Homo sapiens: one gene and its partners. The protein of the gene in region 6 purifies or fractionates together with the protein of the main gene of each other region. This does not show direct contact. Each region holds a gene or a part of one and is shown on either strand. Other genes may lie near its edges.

What was found.
Region 1: the proteins of ETHE1 (region 6) and ACO2 fractionate together in Homo sapiens (co-fractionation; one large-scale study listed by BioGRID). This does not show direct contact.
Region 2: the proteins of ETHE1 (region 6) and GATD3 fractionate together in Homo sapiens (co-fractionation; one large-scale study listed by BioGRID). This does not show direct contact.
Region 3: the proteins of ETHE1 (region 6) and FXN fractionate together in Homo sapiens (co-fractionation; one large-scale study listed by BioGRID). This does not show direct contact.
Region 4: the proteins of ETHE1 (region 6) and GMPS fractionate together in Homo sapiens (co-fractionation; one large-scale study listed by BioGRID). This does not show direct contact.
Region 5: the proteins of ETHE1 (region 6) and GLRX5 fractionate together in Homo sapiens (co-fractionation; one large-scale study listed by BioGRID). This does not show direct contact.
Region 7: the proteins of ETHE1 (region 6) and GSTO1 fractionate together in Homo sapiens (co-fractionation; one large-scale study listed by BioGRID). This does not show direct contact.

Annotation. Positions count from the first base shown.
Region 1 is NC_000022.11:41,475,617-41,479,116, forward strand, and holds part of ACO2 (aconitate hydratase, mitochondrial precursor), read left to right. Parts: intron 1-3,500. UniProt on the Homo sapiens protein: Catalyzes the isomerization of citrate to isocitrate via cis-aconitate.
Region 2 is NC_000021.9:44,140,183-44,143,682, forward strand, and holds part of GATD3 (glutamine amidotransferase-like class 1 domain-containing protein 3, mitochondrial isoform 1 precursor), read left to right. Parts: intron 1-67; coding exon 68-160; intron 161-759; coding exon of another isoform or gene 760-892; exon of another isoform or gene 893-981; coding exon of another isoform or gene 982-1,216; exon of another isoform or gene 1,217-1,233; intron 1,234-3,022; coding exon 3,023-3,179; intron 3,180-3,500.
Region 3 is NC_000009.12:69,066,752-69,070,251, forward strand, and holds part of FXN (frataxin, mitochondrial isoform 1 preproprotein), read left to right. Parts: intron 1-3,500.
Region 4 is NC_000003.12:155,936,650-155,940,149, forward strand, and holds part of GMPS (GMP synthase [glutamine-hydrolyzing]), read left to right. Parts: intron 1-941; coding exon 942-1,043; 3' UTR 1,044-3,500. UniProt on the Homo sapiens protein: Catalyzes the conversion of xanthine monophosphate (XMP) to GMP in the presence of glutamine and ATP through an adenyl-XMP intermediate.
Region 5 is NC_000014.9:95,538,050-95,541,549, reverse strand, and holds part of GLRX5 (glutaredoxin-related protein 5, mitochondrial precursor), read right to left. Parts: intron 1-3,500.
Region 6 is NC_000019.10:43,524,402-43,528,459, forward strand, and holds the start of ETHE1 (persulfide dioxygenase ETHE1, mitochondrial), read right to left. Parts: upstream 2,801-4,058; 5' UTR 2,777-2,800; coding exon 2,696-2,776; exon of another isoform or gene 2,536-2,695; intron 2,259-2,535; coding exon 2,114-2,258; intron 1,949-2,113; coding exon 1,800-1,948; intron 1-1,799. UniProt on the Homo sapiens protein: Sulfur dioxygenase that plays an essential role in hydrogen sulfide catabolism in the mitochondrial matrix. Hydrogen sulfide (H(2)S) is first oxidized by SQRDL, giving rise to cysteine persulfide residues.
Region 7 is NC_000010.11:104,253,666-104,257,691, forward strand, and holds the start of GSTO1 (glutathione S-transferase omega-1), read left to right. Parts: upstream 1-1,226; 5' UTR 1,227-1,263; coding exon 1,264-1,297; intron 1,298-1,497; coding exon 1,498-1,606; intron 1,607-4,026. UniProt on the Homo sapiens protein: Exhibits glutathione-dependent thiol transferase and dehydroascorbate reductase activities. Has S-(phenacyl)glutathione reductase activity. Also has glutathione S-transferase activity.

The DNA of each region.
Region 1 (3,500 bases), on a different chromosome or scaffold from region 6:
GGACGTGGTGGCTCACGCCTGTAATCCCAGCACTTTGGGAGGCTGAGGTGGGTGGATCACAAGCTCAGGAGTTCGAGACCAGCCTGGCCAATATGGTGAAACCCCATCTTTACTAAAAATACAAAAAAAAAATTAGCCAGTCGTGGTGGCGCATGCCTGTGATCCCAGCTACTCAGGAGGCTGAGGCAGGAGAATCAGCTGAACCCAGGAGGTGGAGGTTGCAGTGAGCCGAGATCGCGCCACTGCACTCCAGCCTGGGCAACAGGGTGAAACTCTGTCTCAAAAAAAAAAAAAAAAGCAGCAGATGGACCCTCAGGAGCCTTAGGAGACTTCTGCCACTGGCTTACTGGGTAGCTTCGGGCAAAGTCTCAACTCTCTGTGGTCCTGCAGTTAGTTACACATCTGCAAAACAGTGTAATTAATAACTACCCTTCAGTTAAGAAGGGTTCTGAAGGCCTAATATTTGAAAAGTTGTTTTGACTCTGTTTGATGTGTTATAAAGCATTGTGAGCCGGGTGTGGTGCCTCATGCCTGTAATCCCAGCACTTTGGGAGCCCAAGGCAGGTGGATCACCTGAGGTCAGGAGCTCAAGACCAGCCTGACCAACATGGTGAAACCCCGTCTGTACTTAAAATACAAAATTAGTCAGGTGTGGTGGCGCATGCCTGTAATCTCAGTTACTTTGTGGGCTAAGACAGGAGAATCGTTTGAACCTGGGAGGCGGAGGTTGTACTGAGTTAAGATTGTGCCATTGCACTCCAGCCTGGGCAACAAGAATGAAACTCTGTCTTAAAAAAAAAAAAAAAAAAGGCCAGACGCAGTGGCTCACACCTGTAATCCCAGCATTTTGGGAGGCCAAGGCAGGCAGATCACCTGAGGTCAGGAGTTTGAGACCAGCCTGACCAACATGGTGAAACTCCATCTCTACTAAAAATAGAAAAAAATTAGCTGGGTGTGTGGGTGGTCGCCTGTAGACCCAGCTACTCGGGAGGCTGAGGTACGAGAATCGCTTGAACCTGGGAGGCAGAGCTTGCAATGAGCCGAGATTGCGCCACTGTACTCCAGCTTGGGCAACAGAGCGAGACTCTGTCTCAAAAACAAAACAAAACAAAAAAACAAAAAAACACACACACTGCAAATAGTTTCTGATATTATTTTAGGAATAGGCCATTTCTAAGATTGAGAGTAGGGACAGATTTTCCCCTTGTAGAATATCTTCATTTTGGAAGTCTTGAAAGGTAGGGAGAATGGGCCAGGCATGGTAGCTCACGGCTGTAATCCCAGGACTTTGGGAGGCCGAGGTGGGTGGATCACTTGGGGTCAGGAGTTCAAGACCAGCCTGGCCAACATGGTGAAACTCTGTCTCTACTAAAATACAAAAAATTAACTGGGCATGGTGGCGTGTACCTGTAATCCCATTTACTTGGGAGACTGAGGCAGGAGAATCAGGTTCAAGCGAGTCTCCTGCCTCAGCCTCCCAAGTAAATTAAAGGTAGGGAGAATGGTTTCCATATTATTTATTTATTTATTTATTTATTTATTTATTTATTTTTTTGAGACGGAGTCTGGCTCTGTCTCCCAGGCTGGAGTGCAGTGGCGCGATCTCCACTCAGTTCAAGCTCCGCCTCCCGGGTTCACGCCATTCTCCTGCCTCAGCCTCCTGCGTAGCTGGGACTACAGGCACCCGCCACCACGCCCAGCTAATTTTTTGTATTTTTTTTTTTAGTAGAGATGGGGTTTCACGGTGTTAGCCAGGATGGTCTCAATCTCCTGACCTTGTGATCCACCTGCCTCGGCCTCCCAAAGTGCTGGGATTACAGGCGTGAGCCACCGCACCCGACCTCTTTAGTTTTATTCTGCAGCACCTGGGCCAGAGGAAGGGGCACCAGCTTTGGAGCCAGGCCTGGAATTCCACCTTGCTGCGTGACCCTGGGCAAAACAGTTAGCATTCCAGAGCTTCAGTTTCCTCATCCATTAAATGGGCACAATGCCTTCTGCCTCACAGGGTAGTCGTGGGATTGTGTGGATAAAGTACTTGGGGCAAATCCAGTGCAGGGTAGAGGCACTTGGTGAATATTCATTTCTGTCTCCAGCCCCTGCAGATGGCCCGCGGCATCCATCACCCCAGCCTTTATCCTTAGCTCATACGTTTAAAAAAGACCAGTTGTGGCCGGGCACAGTGGCTCACGCCTGTAATCCCAGCACTTTGGGAGGCCGAGATGGGTGGATCACGAGGTCAGGAGTTTGAGAACAGTGTGGCCAATGTAGTGAAACCCCGTCTCTACTAAAAATACAGATATGAGCCGGGCATGGTGGTGTGCGCCTGTAGTCCCAGCTACTTGGGAGGCTGAGGCAGAAGAATCGCTTGAACTCAGGAAGCAGAGGATGCAGTGAGCCGAGATCACGCTGCTGCACTCCAGCCTGGGCAACAGAGCGAGACTCTGTCTCAAAAAAAAAACCAAACCAGTTGTGAAAATTGCTTGTTCCTCCCATCATCTCCCCAGATAGCAGGTAAGTGGTAGTTGTTCAAGGAAACCTTTTTTTCAAGATAGAGTCTCGCTCTGTTGCTCAGTCTGGATGCAGTGGCATGATCTCACTGCAACCTCCACCTCCTGGGTTCAAGCAGTTCTTTTGCCCCAGCCTCCCAAGTAGCTGGGATCACAGGCACGCACCACCATGCCCAGCTAATTTTTGTATTTTTTGTTTTAGTAGAGACAGGGTCTCACCCTGTTGGCAAAGCTGGTCTCCAACTCCTGACCTCAAGTGGTCCAGCTGCCCCAGCTTCCCAAAATATTGAGATTACAGGCGTGAGCCACTGCGCCTGGCCAAGAAAACCCTTTCAATACTGTTTTAAAAGAGTTGGGGGAAGAGGTAGAAATGAATCTTTTGGTTTAGTTTTTTAATTCTCTAAGGACAACATTGGGGAAGTGAGCTTTAGAGTTATATTTGCAGTATTTATTTTTATCATGAAATATTCAAGTCTAGGCCCTTGGTGAATTGAGGCCTGGTGAGTATTTCTGCTTTCCCCCTGGAGAGATTGAGATGGTTTCTGATTGGGAGCTTTAATTCTGTGGGCATTTGTGGGACTTACCAAAGAGGTATCTAGAGTTCCTTTAAAACCCCCGCCCTGTCCCTGCCACATATCTTCTTTTTTTTTTTTTTTTTTTTGAGAAGGAGTCTCACTCTGTAGCCCAAGCTGGAGTGCAGTGAGTGACACGATCTCTGCTCACTGCAACCTTTGCCTCTGGGGCTCAAGCAATTCTCCTGCCTCAGCCTCCCAAGTAGCTGGGACCAGAGGCATGCGCCACCACACCTGGTTAATTTTCTTGTATGCCACACTTCTTTAGTTCCTTGTAGCCGGGCTCCTTGACCTTCTGCAGGGCATCTGTGGTTGTGGTATTTATAAGCACTCACTGTGTCATGAGTGTGTTCACAGAGCTCTAAGACAAGGGCCCTGTCTGTGGAAGAGCTTTTAGGGTGGTGAGGGAGAAGTCATCTAA
Region 2 (3,500 bases), on a different chromosome or scaffold from region 6:
TAGGAAGCCCCCCAGGAATAGACCCTGGTTGTGAGGCTGTCTGAGGAGGCCTTTTGTCTCCCGGTAGGAGCACGTTTGCCGTGGACGGGAAAGATTGCAAGGTGAATAAAGAAGTGGAGCGTGTCCTGAAGGAGTTCCACCAGGCCGGGAAGCCCATCGGGTGTGTACAGCCGTGCAGGCCTCGGGGAGGGAGGGAGGAGGGTGCGTGGGCCCGCGGCCTCTGTTCTCAGCCAGGAGCTGCCGCTGATCCTGAAAACTCACAGCTGCTTTTCTTGTTTTAACTGAGGGGATTTCACACGATGTCACTGGTGACTTAACAGGAAGGAGAGGCACAGTGCACTTCCCTAGAGGAGGCCTGGAATTCTCTTGGCTCCCAGAGGTGTCCCTAGGCAGTCCCTCAGGACCCCTATCCTTTACCAGACCCCTTCTCCCAAGCCCCTTAGCCACAGTACCCCCAACCCCGCTGACTTCTGGCCAGTCACTGCAGCACGTGCTCCATCCCTGACGCCATCCACTCCCAGCGGCCTCCCTCCTGGGGAGCCACAGCCAACCACGCCCCTTTGTCCCTGCTCAGACAAAGCCTGGGTCCTGAGGTTGGCGGCACGAGTAGGGCGCCCACTCCTTCATCCACGTAAGCGCCTTGGCTTACGTGGCGGGTCGCAGCCCCGCAGGGAGTGTGTGCTCTTCAGCGTCTGCTGCCGGGAAGTCACTCTCAGATGTGTGAGGGTGACCCAGCAAGGCCGGGTTCCGCCTCGGCAGGTGTGATGCTTCCACGAGCCTCCCGGCACCTGCTCCTTGGTGGTCCTGGAACGCGGCGCTGTGCTGTCCAGGTCTCAGCTGCGTCTGGTGCTGGCAGGGCGAGAGCCGCACTTGCGTGGGTGAACATCAGTGAGGCGCACTCGCGATGGCCGCTCACTACCGAGTTCTGTCAGCCGAACAAGGATGAGGATCTATCGGAATCCTCTGTCTCCCCATCCACAGTCACTCACTTAAGGACCTGCCTGGTCACTGTCCAGGGAGGCCCCTAAAGTGGAGCCTCAGGAAGAGGTGCAGGCTCAGAGCTCCTGAAGGAGGTCCCTGCTGCAGCCGTGTCACAGCCGGGGTGAAGGTTTCGCCCATGGTCTCCACCTCGGGATCCCGTCCTTGTCAGAGAAGTGTTCCTTGGATGAGCGCCCAGAGGGAGGAGCCCATGGCCCTTTCTTCTGTGACTGATTAAAAATCTCGATGAAACAAGACAGCCCCTGGCAGGTGAACCACTGCCTCTGAGCATGCCTCCCCTGAAAACAGTGTGGGGCGCAAGCCCATCTCCTCCCCAATCCAGCCATGAGGCTCCCCTGGAAACAGCACAGGGCGCAAGCCTGTCTCCTCCCCGGTCCAGCCATGAGGCTCCCCTGAAAACTGCAGGGCACAAGCCCGTCTGCTCCCCGGTCCAGCCATGGGGCTTCCGTGCACGGTGACCCACAGGCTTTTTTCCTGAGGAAACCTAAATCCTTTCCCACTGGCCCCACCCACCCCTCAGCCTGGTGTCAGAGGCCTGCGTGGCCAGCCAGGGGCTGTTAGGCGGCCCAGCCGCTCACTGCTGGGACCCCTTCCTTGAATGCAGTAGTCGAGGTGGGCGCTGGGCTGTGCCAGGAGCCACTGTGGCATCTGTAGCTGGCAGTTGATGGCTGGGCGGCTGCACGCAGCGTCGGGAGCTGCTGAGAACCTGCTTCCTGGACTTTCTGCCTGCGCAGAGGGCGGCAGGGGGGTTTCATCTCATAGGCAGCCAGAAGTTGCTTCAGGACATGCAGTTTTGGGGGCGGGTTTGTTTTGAGAGTATCGCTCTGTTGCCCAGGCTGGAGTGATCTTGGCTCACTGCAACCTCCGCCTCCCGGGGTCAAGCAATTCTCCTGCCTCAGCCTCCCAAGTAGCTGGGATTACAGGTGTCTGCCACCAGGCCGAACTTTTGTAATTTTAATAGAGACAAGTTTTCGCCATGTTAGTCAGGCTGGTCTCGAACTCCCGACCTCAGGTGTTCTGCCTGCCTCAGCTGCCCAAAGTGCTGGGATTACAGGCATGAGCCACTGCACCTGGCTGTGAAATGTGTTTTTAACAGTGTTTCGTTACAGCTCACGGTAGCAGTTTCCACCTGGGCCTGTCGGGAGTGGGTAGGACTGTAGACAGCGGGAGGAGGGATGAAGGGTGCGGGGTGTTGAGGGCAGGGTGGGGCCTGACAGCTGTGGGCTACACCACAGGTTGCCAGGGGATGGGGCTGCTGTTAATGAGGCCGTACTCCTTCCACTGTTGCCCCTGGGTGGCCATGAGGCGCTGGACGACACAGGTCACTGAAGGCCCTGCTGTGGGCACAGTGCCTGGCACACAGGGGCCTCTGTTGACTTGGCAGGGAGGGGTTCCTGATGAAGCAGAAGCAGGTCCCAGGGGTGGGTGTGGCAGGACCCTCAGTTTCAGGGCTGCTGCGGCCTGTGCGTCAGGGTCAGGGGCGTGCGTCCACCAGCCTGCACTTGTTGAGAGTTGTGCTGCAGGTCGGAGGCTGGCGAGGCTGCTCCTGGCCCGTTGTGCCTCCTGTAGAAGGGGGGCTGGTGTGAATGAGAAGTGCAGCTGTGTTATCTATTGCTGGGTCACAGACCACCCCACAACTCAGGGCTGGGGCAGCCGCACATCATTACCCTCTCTGTGAGTGGACTTTGGCAGCCCGGGACTCTCGCCAGTCTGGGGTGTCCTGGGGCTTGGGGCTTAGCCCATGGCTGTTGGGGGTTCCCCTCAGGGGTCCTTGGCCTGGTGCTTGAGTGCCTGCAGGGCGTGCTTGGCGGGGAGTGGGGCTGAGGACACCTCACTCTCAGCCTTGAGTCACCTGGTGCCACCTCCATCACATCCCATGGGCCACAGCCTTCTGGCAGCGCAGGCTCACAGGGGGCAGGGTCGGCAGGGCTCCCGTGGCAGGGCAGCCTGGGGTCATGGCGAGGGTAATTTCTGTTCTGCAGGCCATGCAGCCTGCCTGACCCGTGTTCTTTTCGCCTTTCAGCTTGTGCTGCATTGCACCTGTCCTCGCGGCCAAGGTGCTCAGAGGCGTCGAGGTGACTGTGGGCCACGAGCAGGAGGAAGGTGGCAAGTGGCCTTATGCCGGGACCGCAGAGGCCATCAAGGCCCTGGGTGCCAAGCACTGCGTGAAGGAAGTGGTCATATCCTTCCTGGTAGCCAGGCCCGGCCCGCTGTCGTGCTTGTCCCTGAGACGTGCATAGGGACGCCCCTCCCTCCGGGCTGTCTTGGTGGGTGGCCTCTTCACCGGGAGCTGCACCTGCTGCTCTCCCTGTGGGGCCTCCCCCAGTGGGCACCGCAGCCATGTGTCTAAGGGCAGAGAGCAGATGGCTGTGACAGCCCAGCTGGTGTGAGGTGGGTCACAGACACGTCAGAAGCGCAGCTCTGGTGCGTGGTTGGCAGATCTGGCAGATCCAGGTCCCTTGCCTGACTGTTTAGTCTGCTCAGCAACACCCAGGCAGCCA
Region 3 (3,500 bases), on a different chromosome or scaffold from region 6:
TATTTGGACACACTGCCCAGCAATACGCTCTAGCTGTGTTCAGAAGCATGGGAATTTGGAAAGATCTGCTGAGCATGCCGTTTACTGTCACAGATACTATCTTCCTCAAAAAAAAAAAATATATATATATATATGGGGGACGGGGCAGGTTGAGACTGGGTGAGACTGAAGAGGTGCCTTGGCCAGAGCAGGCCACACCCAGAGACCACAGGCTCCCCGGTCCACCTCAGGCCCCTCCCCTTCCTGCGCCGTTTCCGGCAGATCCAGAGTGGCCACCGCCGGATGGGAGTCGGGGGAAGGGAGGCAGAGAAGCGGGCCCTGAGGACAAGCTCTCAGTGCTTCTGTGGGAAGTGGCGGCAAGACGGCAGCTCCCAGCGGGGGATGGAGGCCGAGTCAGTCTGCTGGTCACTGGAGGCCAGGATGCTGCCTAACACAGCCGTCCCGCTCCGGGCCTCACCACCAGGGCGGCTCTCCCCACTCCCGGCCTGCTGCCCACACAGACTGCGGGGTTCCGGGGGAGCAGGACCCAGGCCGTTCTGCGCCTGTCTTCTTGGAAGGAGCAGGCCGGAGCGCGGGAGCGCCGTGTAGCTGTACCTGCGAAGGCACAGGATTCCGCGGGAAGATCCCGCAGTTTCGGGCCGTCGTCATTGTTTTTATACCTGTGGCAAATGGCATGACCAGACACACGGTTATGTCTGGAGAAACCCCTGTAGAGGAGCAGGAGGTTGTGGACATGCTGTGGCCCGGACAGTGGCTGCCGAGCAGTTGGAGCCTGCACCCGCCCAACTTGGCTAAAGAAGTCCCCATACTCTCTGTGGAAAAGATTTCCAGAAGCTGTTGTGTCAATATCAAAGCCTCAAAACAACAACAACAACAACAAAAACATGAAATTATCAACAATAAAGATCATCCTTGAGTCTGCTTTGAAAAGTAGGGTGAAATTCTGCAGAGGCATTCAACTGGCAAGATACCACCCTCATAGCCAGATCTGCAGGTCTCAGCCATCATGCCAGGGAAAATGCTCCATTCACCACTCCTCAGCTTCTGCTTCTGGTTTCAGAGGTCTCTGTATTGGAGGGGCTTTAAAGCAAGAAGGGTCTTTACCCACTTACTCTTATTCACAGATGTGAATATGCAGGTCCAGTGGGGAAAGTGACATGTCCTAAGTCAGAATAGAGTCAACAAGAAAACAGGGCCCAAAATGACTTAGCCTCTAGTGTATAATGGGCATTGATGAGCTACTGGAAATACAGAGATGAAGAAAACACAGTCCCATCTTCAAGGAGCTCAATCTAGCAAGGGAGACAGACTCTTTGTAGGTGGGACCGGGCTTCCCTGCAGCAGAAGGAAGCTTGAAATTGGTAACGAGCCTCAGAAGGGACAGAGGCAGGCCACCATGCTACCCTGAGAGGATCGCATGTGGACACGGGGCTATGACCTGGCCCTGCTTTGACCCACTAGCTGTGCTGTAGGGCCAGGTGGAGCCTGGAGTGGCCTGTGCTAAGGGGCTACTATGAGCTCTTTCCACTCCCCCAAGGCATTGCATAAATAATGTCACTTTCTGTTTGCACAGCAAAATCAGGGACACAATTTTCTAGAACATGGGGTGCCTCCCCTCCCCCCAGCCCAACAGAAGTTCTACAATGACTGATGGGCCCTTGTTTTTGTTTGAGACGGAACACCCCACAGGGTTCCGAGTGGTGATTTGTGGCCCACAGGCCACTGGCAAGTGGAGGCAGAGCTGCAGAGCCCTCGGGAGCCACAGAGGGCCTGCTGGCCGCCACGACATGCCAACTCAGCTGCTGCTGGCCCTCCTGTGGGCGGCAGTGCTAGTGATGTGCAGAATCTTAGGACTAGTGCCAAGGAACCTATAAATACCCTGGGTGACCCAGGCGTGCACTGCTGTGGTGGCCTTCACAGTCAGAAGATGACAAGCTGAGAAGGGGAGAATCGGCCCAAGGTGAGATCCACAGAAAGGCCAGGGCCAAGATGCGGCCAGCACCTCAGGCTGGTGGTGGTCTTACGTTGACCATGCCAGAGGCCAGTCCTTGATTGCTCCAAACCCTCTGTTCGAGGGTTCCAAATGAAATGAGCAGGTCCTCGTGTCAGGACCTAGGTTAGTTTCTGAAAAAGCATGAAAAGCAGGCCTCCTGAACTTCCCCGAGTGACTGATGCAAAGTGCGTCCTGCATGCTTCACAGCACCATGGAGAGGATCTTCAGGGGCAAACTGCAGACTATCTGAATGACGGCACTGACCATCAGCAAACCGCAGAGCTGCCTGACCAAGAAATTGCGAGACAGAAGCAATGCTTGCAGGCGAAGAAGAAGGGGCCAGACACAGTGGCTCACGCCTGTAATCCCAGCACTTTGGGAGGCCAAGGCAGGCGGATCACTTGAGGTCAGGAGTTTGAGACCAGCCTGGGCAACATAGTGAAACCCTGTCTCTACTAAAAATACAAAAAATTCGCCAGGCATGGTGGCAGGCACCTGTAATCCCAGCTGCTTGGGAGACTGAGACAGGAGAATTGCTTGAACCCAGGAGGCGAAGGTTGTAACGAACTGAAATCGTGCCACAGCACTCCATCCTGGGCGACAGAGTGAGACTGTCTCAAAAAAAGGAGGAGAAGAAGGAAAGGCCAAGGCAGGAATGAAACAGGCCATGAATGTTGGAGTGAAGCAACTGGCCTCCTCGTGCTAAGCGGCTACTGTGAGTTCTTTCCACTCCCCCAAGACATTGCATAAATAATGTCACTTTCTGACACTCACCCCGCTGAATGTCCTGCCTCTGCTCAAGGGTGGTATGATGGGGACTTGGCAGTGGAGGGGAACAGGGAAACCAGACATGGTGGTCTCCCCGCTTCCTGGCTACAAGTCCCTCTGAAGAAATCCAAAGGAGTAAAGAGCTTGGAGAGTAGGCCTCTGTAGGGTGCAAGGGCACAGCTGGAGACGGAGCTCCTGAGGCTGCAGCTGATGCTGCCCGCTCTGCCTGAACTGCACCAAAAACGTGATGAGGCCATAGCGGGAGTCCACGGAGGAGGATGCCTACTGCCCGACCTCTAGCAGAGACTAAGCAAGGTGCATGAAAACTTGAACCACATGTGTCACACCCATGACCACTACATGAAGATGGCCCAAAACCTGGCCCAGGAATTGAAGAAAGACTCTTCCAATTTGCTGTAAGAAAATGGCCCAGGGGGCAAGCACGGTAGCTCACACCTGTAATCCTAGCACTTTGGGAAGCTGACGCAGGCAGATGGCTTGAGCTCAGGAGTTCCAGACCAGCCTGGGCAACATGGTGAAACCCCGTCTCTACCAAAAATACAAAAATTAGCCGGGTGTGGTGATGCATGCCTGTGGTCCCAGCTACTCAGGAGGCTGAGGTGGAAGGATTGCCTGAGTCTGTGGGGCAGAGGTTGCAGTGAGCTGAGATCACACCACTGCACTCCAGCCTGGGTGACACAGTGAGACCCCATCTCAAAAAAAAAAAAAAGAAAGAAAA
Region 4 (3,500 bases), on a different chromosome or scaffold from region 6:
TCACATATTTGATTAATACACTGGGGCAGAAAAAGGCTTTAAATTATATATGCTCTCCAATTGTGTGATTACTGTATAAAAAGTAATTGATTATAATTTTATCTAATCCTGCCAATTTCTACTTTACAAACAGTATTCCCCAAATAAAAAAGAAAACTCTAGGAGTGAAGAAGAGTTTGTTAGAAATAAGGATGCAATTTGATAGCTTTATGGCCAGACACCCAAGAATTGCCTAAATGTTCTCCCTACTACCAATTCCAACTCAATTTTTGATCCTTCTTTGTCTTCACCAGAACATTCCAAAGGAGCTACTTGCATAATAGCAAGTGAAAATCAAAGTGAGACTCTATTAGTTGGGCCACTGCCTCCAGTGCACTAACACGAAGCTGTCGTGATAGCTAGGTAGATGGGTTGGTTCGGAACGTGGCTTAGAGTCATTTTTCTCTTAGGCTCAAATTTGTCAAATTTGACAAGTGAGCAGGCTATCCTCTCCTGTATACTTGATAATGATTATTACAGTGTACTCTGTGCCACCTTGGTGGCCCTTAGAGTTGTATGTTTAAGCTGCAGATAATTTGCAGAGCATTGGCTGAAACACATAAAATCACATGCTTGGATGCCACAGCAATGTCAAATCGCTATATGTTCTTAAGCACTTGTGGCTCAGTCACAAACACAACTTGCAGACTAGCACCTGTTTGTGGATCACACTTTGAGTAGTACTGAGTTTAAGTCACTAATATTTTAAACCTTAATAACTTACACCTATCCCTGCAGAGGGGAATAGGTTCATTATATAAGATTAATCAGAAACCATCCCATATACATGGAGGACAATAGTGAAAATAGTCAAATTTTAATTTCAAATTACAAATGTAAGCCCTCTAGGACTGCTGGACATGCAGTGGATGCTGACTTTTCTCTATAATTTTTTTTAATAGGTGGTATTAAAGATGGTCACTGAGATTAAGAAGATTCCTGGTATTTCTCGAATTATGTATGACTTAACATCAAAGCCCCCAGGAACTACTGAGTGGGAGTAATAAACTTCTTGTTCTATTAAAGTACCGTGTGCAGTTTAAATTGATTAGAAATCATTCCCATTATTGACATGCAGTACTGTGAAAAGAGTTACTGGAGCAGCTACATCACATCTGAGTTCTCCACAGCAAAAATCTACGGCTTAAGAGCTGAGTTGGGGATAACCAAAAGGGACTGAAGAGTTTGTACGGGTAAATAATCAAAGCACCATTGCCTACACTCAGACAGATTGATACTGCTTTTGCCTTTGCCTCACTTATTCTTTATGTATAAATTCACTGTTGATGTCTCTGTGAATATGTATGAAGGTGGGTGAATTTGGGGGTAATTATGGGCTTCTGTCTCCTTACCAGTTTCTAAGAACTGTTAGAAACGCCCATTATTTACCAGTGTTACTTACTACTTATATATACTTTTTGGAGAATCAGTTTTCTTATAAGTAATCTTATTTCTCCAAAGGGTGAAAAAGAGATGAACATATCAGATAAAGGTATAGGTGGGCTATTCCAGCCACTTTTGAAGGACACTGAGGGTATAAAATGTAAGCTACCATAAGATGGAAAAGCACCAGGAATTTGTTGATGTACTTTTGAATTTTATTTCACAGCCTTGGGAGGAAGAAACTATGAGTGGTCTCAGATGTCTATGAATGGTCTTAAAATGTTTTCAAACCATGTTCCACATAGATGCCATGTTATTCAATGTCAGCTTGTTTATTAGTAAGGAGCTTTATCCTCCTAGCCTTATATTACCAGCCCCCCACAGCCTTGCATAGAAAGTTTCTGTTATCTCCTTAGAAGAAACTGGCTCAATGACGTTTCTGGTGTAGTGCAGATAGAGGTCAAGAGGAGCATTTTCATCTCTTCTTTTGCTGGTCAGAGAAACGGTTCTGAGATCACAGAAGCTATGATGCATACCTACAGCTTACAAAAGGGAGAGGAAAAATGTTTATATCATCTAGTAAACAGTTGTAAAATGAGCTTTTAAATCTAATCTATAGACATATTATTCATTGCTCAGACACCTGTGAACAGTCTTGATACATGCAAGATGTTTGCCAAACTTTGTAATCCTTTCTACTAGCTATAAGAGAGGATTTAAGAACTGGTGTAGGACTTGTTGCCATCACCACCAGTTTCTAACAGATCTTTTATAACATTCACATAAGTACTGTAGACAGTAGTAGACTTAAACTCTCCGTTTCTCTCAGTATTTTAGCTAAGAATGTTACCATATTTTTCTCTTAACAATTCCATCTCAGGTTGCTGCTGCTTGTCTAGTTTAAAAGGTCAGATCTATTAATCAGGAATGAAATTTTATTTGGGATTCAGTGTTAGACAAACAACAAAATGATGCGTGGCAGAAGTCATCTTTTTATTCTGGCTGGTCCAGGGAACAAGAAAACTGCTGCTGGACCAGCAAGGGAAGAGTTTCTGTCTGTCTTAACAGAAATCTGTCCCCAAGACAAAGGGGTACTTGACTCCTACAAAACTTAAAGGGTACATTCTCTATCTGATGAGGAGGTACTCATTATGGCCTTCTGGAAAGAGGCTATGTTAGTGATCTGGTCTTTACAGATTTAGAGTCATGTTATTTGAAAGCTAGAATAGACAACCTATAAAATGCTTACCAACATGTGTCAGTACACGTTTATGTTTATATGAAAAAAAATTTCTAGCCACAGTGTCTTATGATTTTGTATTGAAGCAAACAGTAGGAATTTTGGAAAAATAGAGAGTAAGAATGTGTGTTCTATGGAACACTGCTCCACTGAGAAGGTCCATGTAAAAAGGATTAGGTGGTCATATAAGTTTGGGGAACATAAGCTCACTTGTCCTTTCCTGGAGATTCATGGTATATAATATTCAAAGCTCTGAGAAATTCTGAAGTTAAAAACAATTGTTAAATTCTGCTTAAATTAGTGTTTTCCTGATATTTGTTTTTTGAACACCTTTTATATAATCCCTTCTAATATATACTTAGTATATACTTAATATAATATTGGGAAAATTGTTACTCCAAAGCACATCTTGACATGACATAGTTTCTTAAAAATCCAAATTTTCTGGAACTCAGAAATTTCCTAATATTTAGCACACTGTCTTCTTTTGCACAGCACTTTTTGCTTTGTGCCATATAGCATTACTCTGTACCTTCACAGTATTTCATCTGAGCCACTGAGGAAAGTTAAAGGTTGCACTTCCATTTTACAGTTAAGAAAACAAGCTCACCTTAGGCATGGTTACTTAATTAATTTCAGAATTAAATTTCAGGTTTCCTTAGTCCAGATTGTCCTGATGTGTATTCTGACACCTAAAATTATATAAACATTTATGGGATGCTTATTTTACTAAGACTAGAATGGTGGCTACCTGGCTAATAACATTCATCATTGGTTATTCTGGGCATATCATGACTTTATTCCCGTTGCTTACCATCTACCTGGGACACATCTCTCT
Region 5 (3,500 bases), on a different chromosome or scaffold from region 6:
ACCTGCCTGTTCTTGACAGCAGCTGACGGTTTATCAAAATTAAACTTAGCTGCTTCTTTAATTTTTAGATGAATAGGTGTAATAGGCAGCTGGCATCAAGGCCAAACGTTGGCACCCTTCTTAATGACTATGCTCTTTTCCATTTTTAAGAAAGTTGATTACCAGTTTAAATATTTAAGGAAATACCCAATTGCTTCCTATAGAGTGAAGTGAGAAACTCCTAATAATAATAAAAGACTACTCTTCATAAGTTGAATATTAAAATGAATCCTGCGGATCCACAAGTAACTGTTTACACATGGTTAATCTCTCTCACACTTTAGTTTTCAAAAACTGCAATATGCAGTGGTAGTTCTTACAAATATCACTTGAAATTAACTCAGAATCAGAGAGCTACTCCTGAAAATTAGAAAATCACATCCAAGAATGAATTTTAATGATAATCATTATTTCATATGTGATAGACGGTGGTGATTCCATCTGGGGCAGAAAATGCTGACTGCAAAGTTATATGGCAGAGTAACACTAGGAACTGGGAGTTAGGAGGCTATCTTACAAAGTCAGTTTACACGCATCTAATGCTCCACCAAAAAAACCCATACAAACAAATTCATATTCCAAAGTATCAACCCAGAAAGAGTACAGAAATGATACTTTAAAATTCCCTTCCAGAACTTTCAAAAGGTATTTTTCAAAATTCATCACATTCAGAACACTGGGCATTACTCCTGATTTGGACACTAAATTACGAGAGCAGCATAATCATAGTTTTCTTTCTTTTTATTTTTCCTGGTAGAACCTCACTACAGTAGCTTCAGAATCTGATATGAGTTCCAACTCTGTCTCTTACCTACTAGACTCTGTGATCTTGGGCAAGTTACACCACCTCTGAGAGTCACAATTTCTTCATATTCTCTAATTTAGAGAATGGCGTTAAGTCGAGATAAGATGATCTGAGCTGAAAGCACGGAAATCAGTAGACCCTCACTAGAGGAAAAGCAAGGCACGGGGCAGAGTGGGCAAGGCACAGGCTTAAGGATCAGTAGATCTGGTTTGCTAGCCTGTAAATGTAGCCTCAGACAAATCTGTTAATCTTTTAGCCTCAGTTTCCTCATCTGTAAAATGGGAATATACTCTACGCCTCACATATTATGAAGATTCCATGATATCTAAGGAATGAAATGAATTGAGCTCCCAGCATAGTACCAGGTACAGTGTGGACATTCTCTCCATACCAACATGCTCCACCACCCACCCTTCACAGTAATGCTTTTCTGAGAAAGGCAACAGAAAAAGCATAGGAAAATAAAGCAGGAAAAAGTGATTAAGTATACCCTAAAGTAATGAAAACGCCATTCAGGCCAGGTGCGGTGGCTCACACCTGTAATCCCAGCACTTTGGGAGGCCAAGGCTGGTGCATCACCTGAGGTCAGGAGTTCAAGACCAGCCTGGCCAACATGGTGAAACCCTGTCCCTACTAAAAATAAAAAAAATTAGCCAGGCATGGTGCCAGGTGCCTGCAATCCCAGCTCCTTGGGAGGCTGAGGCAGGAGAATCGCTTGAACCCGGGAGGCAGGGGTGGCAGTGAGCCGAGATTGCCCCCTGCACTTCAGCCTAGGCAGCAGAGTAACACTCTCTCAAAAAAAAAAAAATATATATATATATACCATTTATTGAGTTAAGGATTACTGAGTTTCATACTCTTTAAGCGTTTTACAAAAATAATCTTATTTAATCTTTACAAAAATCTGACAAGGCAGGTACAATTATCCCTACTTTACATAAGATGAAGAAACTAAGGCTCAGAAGGGTTAAGTAACTTACCGAAACTCACAGTGACAGCGCAGTGAAACCAGGATTTATATCCAGGCTTCCAGGAGTACAAAAGCCCAGACTCTTAACCACATGCTACCTGAGTCCCTCACCAGAGGTGGCCTCTACCCTCTAGCTGCCATCTCACTCCTGCCCAGGAGCTACAAGTGCACTGCACACATATCTGCAATATATGGGACTGTTTTATGCCTTTAACATTTACATATACAAATGGTATTATGCCATAATTACGTGTTTGCAACTTGCTTTTTGACTAAATATTGTATTTTTGAGATTCAGCCATGTTAAATACATCTAGATCTAGTTCATTTTAACTACAGTTTAGCTTTCCATCATGTGACTAAAGTTTATTTATCTGGTCTGCTGCTAATAGACCAAGATCCCTTCCTGTCAGTTTTTCATTATTGCAAGCCATGCTGCAATGAACGCGCCAACACAGGTATCCTAACACAGAGGTCCCCAACCTTTTTGGCACCAGGGACTGGTTTTGTGGAAGACAATTTTTCCACGGACCAGGGAAGGGTGGGGATAGCTTCGGGATGAAACGGTTCCACCTCACATCATCAGGCATTAGTTACATTCTCGTAAGGAACGCACAACCTAGATTCCTCACATGTGCAGTTCACAATAGAGTTTGTGCTCCTATGAGAACCTAATGTCGTCACTGATGTGGCAGGAGGCGGAGCTCAGGCGGTAAAGCTCACTTACCCACCGCTTACCTCCTGCTGTAAGTCCTCGATCCCTGGCCTGGGGGTTGGGGACCCATGTCCTAACACACACATGCAGAAGTCAGTCTCTAGGCCAGGGACAGATAAACTATGGTCTTCAGGCCAAATCCAGTCTACTTCGTAATTAAAGCTGTATTTTCATAAATAAAGTTTTATTGAAACTCAGCCTGCTCATTCATCTACATATTGCCCATGACTGACTTCAGGCTATATAACAGCAGAGTTGAATAGATGCAACAAAAACCACACAGCCCACAAAGCCTGACGTACTTAGTCTCTGGCCCTTTACTAGGGTAAGTTTGCAGATCCCCCTCTCTAGAATATATACCTAGGAGTCACGCAGCTGGGTCTTAGGCTCTGTTCACCCATAGCTTGACTGGGTACTGATAGTTACTCCTCCAAAGTGTTGGTACCATTTTATACTCCCATCTGCAGCATACATGTGCACCACACAAGCACATACACACAACTTGTTATCCAACTTTTAAGGTTCACCAGCATGACATGTTTCACTACTGTCTTCAATTCCCTGATACTGAAAAGGTGGAGCGTATTTTCAAATGCTTAATAAACATTCAACAACAGGATATGGTTATTTATTCAACAAATCATTTGAGTCCCTATTCTGTCACTGTTCCAGATGCAAGGACTACAATGATGATCTAAATCGGCAGCAAATGTTTATAATGCCTTTAAGGCCGCAGAGTTTGCAATATAATGATAAATAAAAGCAGTATTTATTTATTTATTAAAATGCTCACTGAAAGCTTGCTTTGCATAAGCGGTACACACAGCACCACAGGCAGTGGCATAAGACATATTCCCTCGTCTCTGGAGGGCAAAATACTATGTATAGACAAGCATGGTCTCAATGTGTTAAAAAAAAAAAAACTGTTAGGAACTAGATCTAAATGTTAATACAATAGTTTCCATAAATTA
Region 6 (4,058 bases):
AAAAAAAAGTTGCCTAAGGCTGAGGGGGGAAAAGGGAAGGATAGGGGTGATGGCTAAGGGGTGTGGGGTCTTTTTGGAGTAATGGAAACATTTTCCAATTAATGGTAGTAATGGATGTACAACTCTGAATATACTAAAAGTCATTGAATTGTGCACTCGAAATAGATAAATTATATGGTATGTGGGTTATATCAATAAAGCTATTAAGCCTGGGCAACATAGTGAGATTACAGCTCAACAAAAAATTAAAAAATTAGCCAGGTATGGTGGCAGGTGCTTGTAGTCCCAGCTACTTAGGAGGCTGAGGCATGAGGATCACCTGAGCCCAGAAGGTCAAGGCTGCAGTAAGCTATGATCCCACCATTGCACTCCAGCCTGGGTGACAGAGCAAGACCTTTTCTCAAAAACAAACAAACAAACAACAACAACAAAAAAGGGTGGGTGCAGTGGCTCATGCCTGTAATCCCAGCACTTTCAGAAGCCCTGTAATCCTAGCACTTTAGGAGGCCAAGGTAGGAGGATCACTTGTGCCCAGTAGTTCAAGACCAGCCTGGGCAACATAACAAAACCCTGTCTCTACAAGAACATACACAAATCAGCCAGGCGTGCTGGTGCATGCCTGTGGTCCCAGCTACCAGGGAGGCTAAGGTGGGAGGATCACCTGAGCCTGGGAGGTCAAGGCTGACTGCACTCCAGCCTAGGTGACAGAGACCCAGTCTCAAATAAAAAAAAAAAAGAAAGAAAGAAAGAAAGAAAAAAAAAAAACACTGAAGCTAAATCTACCATAGCTAAACCCTTCGTTCATTTCAAGACATGTTTGTTAGCACCTATTATGTACAATGTACATACATGTACAATGCATTTTTGCCTGCTTCCAGAGAAAGGCTTGAAATAAAGCTTCTGTAACCATTGTAGCTGAACTCTCTTCCCACACACAGCCCTCATTTCCTCTAAACACTCTGACTCAAATGAACTGTCCCTATTTGGCAAAACTCTCTAACCTGGAGGCTGTCTTCTGTCACCTGACATTCTGTCCCCAAAGTCAGCCAAACTTTATTATACATCTTTAGCAATTGATCAGAAGAATGCCCTGCCAGCTGTTTCCCTCTCTCTGAGGGCAACTCCCCTGGCCCTCCCTCCTTCGGCCTGGTTGCAATTCTGGCCGGAAACCCGCTGGTGCCTGTGGCAAATAAAGTGAGGAAGGCAGGAACCTTTAGACTTCCCAGTGTGAGGCAACGGCAGGGCTAGGACTAGGGTGAGGCTGTTGGTGCAAGATTTAAGGAGGCGCTCACTCACAGGTGCGGACCCTGCACTTACAGGACCCTGAGAGCGAGTGCCTCCTTAAATGTTGCACTCCAGGGTCCTCACCGTCCTTTTCCTAGTCCTGGGCTCCGGGTTCTAAGCACCCAGATGCTCCTTCCTCAAACGGAGGTTTCCGCAAGACAGGACTGGGTCTCTTTCCTTCTCAGCCCTGCCCTCAGAATTCCAGCCCCTAATCAACTTTTATGGAGATGCATGCCAGGCCAAAGGGCTGCCCCTAAGCTTTAGGAAGGAAACTCCTTAAATGCTGTTGACTTAGGAGTTCCGCCAGTGCCCCACCTGCCCAGAGCCTCTTGCCCCAGTGCCCCACCTGGGTTTATGGTGCCCCCCTCCCAGAAATATGAGCTCAGGGGTCAGAAACCCAGGTCCTGAGGTCCCTCCTCCCCAAGGACTCAGGATCCCAGGCCCCCAGTCCCCTCTTCCCTTAAGTTTAAGAAGTCCAGGCCACCACCCTCTTGGGGACCCAGCACCCAACTCACGAAGCGCCCGAAGCGGATGGAGTCTCCATCCTCAATGTGTAAGTCAGCCTGGGCCCCACTAAGGCGGGAGATGACAGACTGGCAGCCAGGGAGGAGGGAACGGAGCAGCCCCGAGCCTGTAATGTGGTCCGCGTGGCAGTGGGTATTCACTGGGAGAGAGAGGAGGGACAGGTCCGGAGGGTACAGAAAGGACCTGGGAGTCCCAGCCCAGATCCTTCTCCCTCAGACTCAGGAGTTCTGGGCCCCAGCTTCCCATTCCACTGACGCTGCAGCCCAGCCCCGCTGGGATCCATGAGTTTGGTCCCCGGACTGACCAGCATAGAGCAGCCGCAGCCCCAGCTCCTTGATCAGCTGGGCATCCCGAGGCGCTGTTTCCAGGACTGGGTCGATCAGAACGGCCTCCCGGGACTCTCTGTCACCCAGCAGGTACGTGAAGGTGCAGCTCACAGGCTCGAACATCTGGGAACGGGGGACCCAGGTGAGGGCGCAGAACCGGACTTCCACCCACTGGAGGCCAAGTAGTCCAGACTGACCCTATCCTCTTCCTAAGATCCAGAAGCAGAAACCCCAGCCCACTCTTTCCCCGGGAGTCGGGAGTCCGGAGCCCCACTACCTTCCCCTATCAGAACAAAAGAGTTCCAACTTCCTAACATCCCAAAATCAGGGTCCCCAGCACGTTCTTTCATAGAGGACCCAGGGGTCTGGCCCCAAGCCCAGAGGCCCCCAGACCACTCACCTTTAAAGGACCCAAGAGTCCAGCCCTAAACCTCCACCCCGCTTTCCGCAAGATGCAGGCGTGGGTCCCCCCGGATCTCTCCCTATTAAGAGACCCCGGAGTTCCGTCCTTGCTGCCGCCTAGTGCCCAGCAGTCCCCTCCTAGGTCCAGCCACCCGCACCTGCCGCAGGAGGATGGGGGCTCCAGACCCGCCGCGCTGGCTCAGCTGCCGCCGGGCGACCCTCAGTACAGCCTCCGCCATCGCGCCCACTGCGGGGTCAGGAATGAGCGGAGGCCGAGCGCCTGCAGGAGCCGGGCGCTACGGCACTGACCCCGGGAAGGGCGGGGCGGGGGCGGAGCACGCCTTAAAGGGGCCACGGACGCCTGGGGCAGAGGGCGGGGGACCGCCGAGCGGGACTGGGGCGAGGGCGAGACCGAGGAAAGCCAGAGTGCAATGCCTGGACGCTTTGAGACCCAGAAAAAACAGAGAACAGGGAGACACTCAAAGTGCGAGGGACAGACGCTCAGAGACACACAGACATACTCATGTAGGAACAGAGATAGGGAGAGAAGTAGAAACCCAGGGAGAGGCCCCAGTACACTCATAGCCTCGGGGCCGTTTTTTTTCCTTTTTCTTTTGTTTTATTTTGAGACAGAGTCTCGCTCTGTCACGCAGGCTTGAGTGCAGTGACTCGATCTCAGCTTACTACAGCCTTAAACTCCCGGGTTCAAGCGATCCTCCAACCTCAGCCTCCCGAGTAGCTGGGACTATGGCACGTTGCCACCACACCCGACATTTTATATATATATATTTATATCTATATATATATTTATATACATATATATATATACACACACACACACACATACATGTATATAAAATTTGTTTTTTGCAGAGACGGAGTTCTCACTATGTTGCCCAGGCTGATCTCGAACTCCTGAGCTCAAGCGTTCCTCCCACCTTGTCCTCCCAAAGTGCTGGGATTACAGACGTGAGCCACCGCGTCCCGTGGGGCCGTTTTCTAGCAGGTGGTAGGATAGTCATGGTTAGAAAAAGATGTTCGGTTCCGGGAGGCAGAGGTTGCAGTGAGTAGAGATGACGCCACTGCACTCCAGCCTGGGCGACAGAGGGAGACTCTGTCTCAAAAAAAAAAGATATTCGTTCGGTTCCAGGTCATTAATATCTTGAGGGACTTTTGAGTGGGTGCCTGGTTACCAGAACAACACTTGATCCCATTAAAGTTCATCCAGAAATTGCATAAGCATTTTATCAGGAATGTTTCTCTCTTTCCAGGAAGAAATCTTAAAAAAAAAAAAAAAGATAATTTTGCATTATCTCTTGAATAATCAGATTGGGGATTATTCATCTTCTGTTGGGGTGTGAACCTCTGAAAAGAGCTTGTGTTCATTTACACCAAGGACCTGGGGCTGAAAAACTGTAGTCTCAAGTCATGAGCTGTCAGAAAGTCTGCTCTTTGTAATCGTAGCAGTAGTGAGAATAGGACATCCCACTCTCATCTGGAGGATCTATGTCACTTTGTGAC
Region 7 (4,026 bases), on a different chromosome or scaffold from region 6:
GGATGTATCCTACAGGTGACGGTAGGGACAGAGGCCCTCCCAGTAGTCACGTTAAGCTAGTACTGACAGAAAAAGGAAAAGCCTGTCCAGGTGGCTGGGCAACCCTGCAGCGAGGCATAGATGAGCTTGTAAATCAAAGGAAATGACCAAGGTGAGTCTCAATCCTTTTAGAGGTTTATTTTGCCAAGGTTGAGGACACATCTGAGAAAAAGGAACACAAAATCACAGGAACATCTGTGATCTGTGCTCTTTCCAAAGAGGGCTTGAGGACTTCAATATTTAAAGGGAAAGAGCAGGCAGTAGGGGAAAGTGGAAAGTAAAAAGGGAAGGTAGATAAAAGGGGAGAGTAGTTGCATTCTTTGGGGCCTTTGATCAGCATTCACTGAATGCGCATGTTACATTCGTGAAAGGAGGTCGTAGAGGAATAGTCAGTTATGCATTCGTCTAGTGCTTGGTGAATCTGCATTTTTACAAGATTAAATATAGGGTAGAGGAAGCGGTCAAATTGCATTTTTCTCCAGCGAGAGGAAGGATGACTCCTAGACCTGTCTTTGTCCCATACTTGGGAAGATAAGCTGTTAGTTTACATTGCCAAGATGAAATTCAACTGATCTGTTTTAGAGTAAAGATCTTGCGGGCCAACAAGGAATTTCCTTGGGGAGGTGTGTGGCCTTTGATCTTTGTAGCTATTTAGCAACAAAATGGGAGGCAGTGTTGCCTGACTCAGTTTCCAAGCTTGACTCTTCCCTTTGGCATAGTGAGTTTGGAGTCAAGAGATTTTTATTTTCCCTTCACAAGCTGAACAGGAGCCTTTGGAGAGAACGCTCTGGACCGGTGAGTGAGCCATGAGGTCGGGCCACAGGCTCTGAAGTCGTGAAGCCTTGGGACGGAGCGGGTGGTGCTTCGAGGTCAGTGTCACGGGAGGGAGGTCAGGGTCAGGGTCAGACGTGGAGCCCCGTGGAGTGCGGAGTGGTGACCCCTTCGTTCGGGGGCGGAGGGATGACTGAGCATTTATAACTTTTGTGTATCTCCCCGTGGGTGCAGCCCTTGGCCAGCGAGATGCTTTGACACAGCCCCTTAAGATGTTTTAAGGGCTATCCCATAAAGCCGGGAAGGCACAACGGGTGGAGCTGGCGGCCGCCGGGGGCAGGCACTTTTGAGCTAAGGAGGAAGCGGGGGAGGGAAGGAGGGCGGGAAGGACGCGCCACCTACTTCCTGAATCCCCTGCAAACCCCAGAGGAGCTCGGCCTGCGCTGCGCCACGATGTCCGGGGAGTCAGCCAGGAGCTTGGGGAAGGGTGAGGCCTGCCCGCCGCGAAGAGGGGGTGATCTCGGCGACCCCCGGCGGCATGTTCGAGGCTGCTCCGGGAGCCCAGCCGCCCGGGAGCGCCCCACCGGCGGGGAACGGGTCGGAGCTGCAGTGGGACGCGGGGGCGGTGGGATACGGGGGGTCTCGACACCTCTCTGGGCCGTAATCGCCTTCGCTTCTCCCCGGCAGGAAGCGCGCCCCCGGGGCCGGTCCCGGAGGGCTCGATCCGCATCTACAGCATGAGGTTCTGCCCGTTTGCTGAGAGGACGCGTCTAGTCCTGAAGGCCAAGGGAATCAGGTGGGCACCCAGGCGGGGGACGCTCCCCGAGCCGTCCGGGAGCCTGCTGCAGGCGGCGGGGTGGGGTGGGGTCTCAGCCCCCTTCTACCCCCCTCCCACCAGCGTCCTTTACTGCACATTAAACTATTCTCGGCCCTTTGGAAAATAGCAAGTTATAGGCCATTCCCCTAGGAAAAATAGGCCACAGATTCCAACGGTCTAGGACACCTCATTTAGATTAACCAACCATTTAATGGATTAGAAAAGCTGAGGCTCCAGTGATGTTAGTGATTTGCCCGGTAATAACCGGCAGCAGCTCTTTTAGCTTTGGTAGGTCACGAATTCCTGGTCCAGAGTCCTTTCGCTTTCGCCCTATTGTGATTTCCCGTTCTTATTCCAGCTTAACTGTTAGTTGTTATTCTGAATGTATTGTTCCCTCCTAGAATAGTAATTTACCCCAGTACAGCAGAGTTTAGACCCTGACCCTCCTAGGGTAGTGCTGAGTTTACTGCACATATTCCTGTGGATTGGGCTGTTGGTTGAGTCAAATAGAGGGAAGTGTCTGTCTAGCTCATCCTTCTGCAGAGCCTGTTTTGAAACTAGCATAGTTTTTGACTTACGGGCTATCCACAGGATATGTGCAACAGTCACTTGACTTTTCTCTGACACCAAGTATCCATTGGAACCACTTCCCTTCCCATGACCTTTGGATGTCTGTTGATTAGACATTTATTAGATACCTTTGGTGTGGAAGGTTCTGTGGAAGTTTAAAACAAACCCCCTATTCTTAAGGAATTTTCTGTCTGTGTGCTTAGTGTTTGTGAACTAATTTTAGTCTTCTAAGGGGATAATCTTTAGGGGTAGGCAATTATTTTCCCTAAAAGAAAGGTAAAATGCATTTAAAAAATACATTTGAAGGGGATTTGTCATTACTTCACTAAGAAATGCATCTCATTTGGATGAGATTATGATTCTGAACACATAGAGTACTTACTATTTCATAATGTTTCTCAAAAACACTGTCATATTTGCTGTGATAGAACTCTTTTATTGTACTAAGAGAAATCTAATGTAACCAAAATTGAAAAAAGACATTTTTTGGTACTCATTTATTTGAAAAGTCCAGGAGCATGACACAGCTGGATTCAGAGGCACAAAGTCCTGGGTTATGTGCTTCACCCTGGACCTTTAGTTTGAAAACAACCCTACCTTATTTACTGGGGCAGTTTTCCAAAGGAACATTGAAACTATCTTCCCCTAATAGTGTGGGGTAGAGGGGAGGAAGAGAGTGGTTAACAGCTTCCAGACAGTGCAAACAACAAAGGTCTACTACATTAATAGACCAGTTTTAAGCTTGAGCCCGAGGAGGCTTTTACTGGGAAAGTACTAGATTTTAACCACATGATATGACTTAACAAAGCATGGTTTTCTCTAAAAGATGCATCTTCCAACTTGCTGTGGCAGGTGTGTAGACTTGTTGGCTCACAATGCCAGCTTACCAAAATTCATGTGTGTTCTGACATACTTTTTTTTTTTTAAATAACAAAAGCCCAGGATCTTTTTGTTTTCATAGTAACAAAAGTTTTTGTTTTATAGTTCAAAAATGTTGATAATTCTTTGGCAAGGAGCCAAATAATTTTTTTTTTTTTTGCAATGGCTGGTACTTAAGTGTCCAGTATTGTCAGCACATGAACCTTTTAAATTACATGCACACCTGTGCTCATGTTCAAATTGGATGTTCCTTTGTTTACATGGGGGATTATGTATTTAAATCCTCAAATGAAATGCTGTTCTAGCTACAGCTGTGGATGGGAAAATAGAAAACAAAAGGTATTGGTGTCTATTTTTTTTTTAGTAATCTGTTCTATTGAACATTTATTCAGCCTTGACAATCATATGGACCTAGCTCCTTTCTCTTAGTTCCTCTACAGTCTCAGGCAACATACAAGATAGACCTAAATACAATCTGACTATAGCCTGGACTTCACCTGTTTTCTTCCTTTTTGGTTTACTTTGTATGATTTACTCAGACAACATTTTTTAAAAAATCAGTACATGGAGATTTAATCTGAAAGCTTATTTTGTGGGTGGATTTTTTTTTTTTTTTCGAGACAGGGTCTCGCCCTGTCACCCAGGCTGGAATGCAGTGGTGCAATCATGGCTCACTGCAACCTCTGCCTCCAGGGCTCAAGCAATCTTCTCACCTCAGCATCCGGAGTAGCCGAGACTACAGGTGAGTACCACCACACTTGGCTAATTTTTATATTTTTTGTAGAGATAGGGTTTCATCATGTTGCCCAGGCTGGTCTTGAACTCCTGGGTTTAAGCAATCCGCCCACTGCAGTCTCCCAAGGTTCTGGGATTACAGATGTAAGCTACCAAGCCTGGCCTTGTGGGTGGATTTTAAGGATTCCTTAATATCTTCATAAAAACCAAGAAAC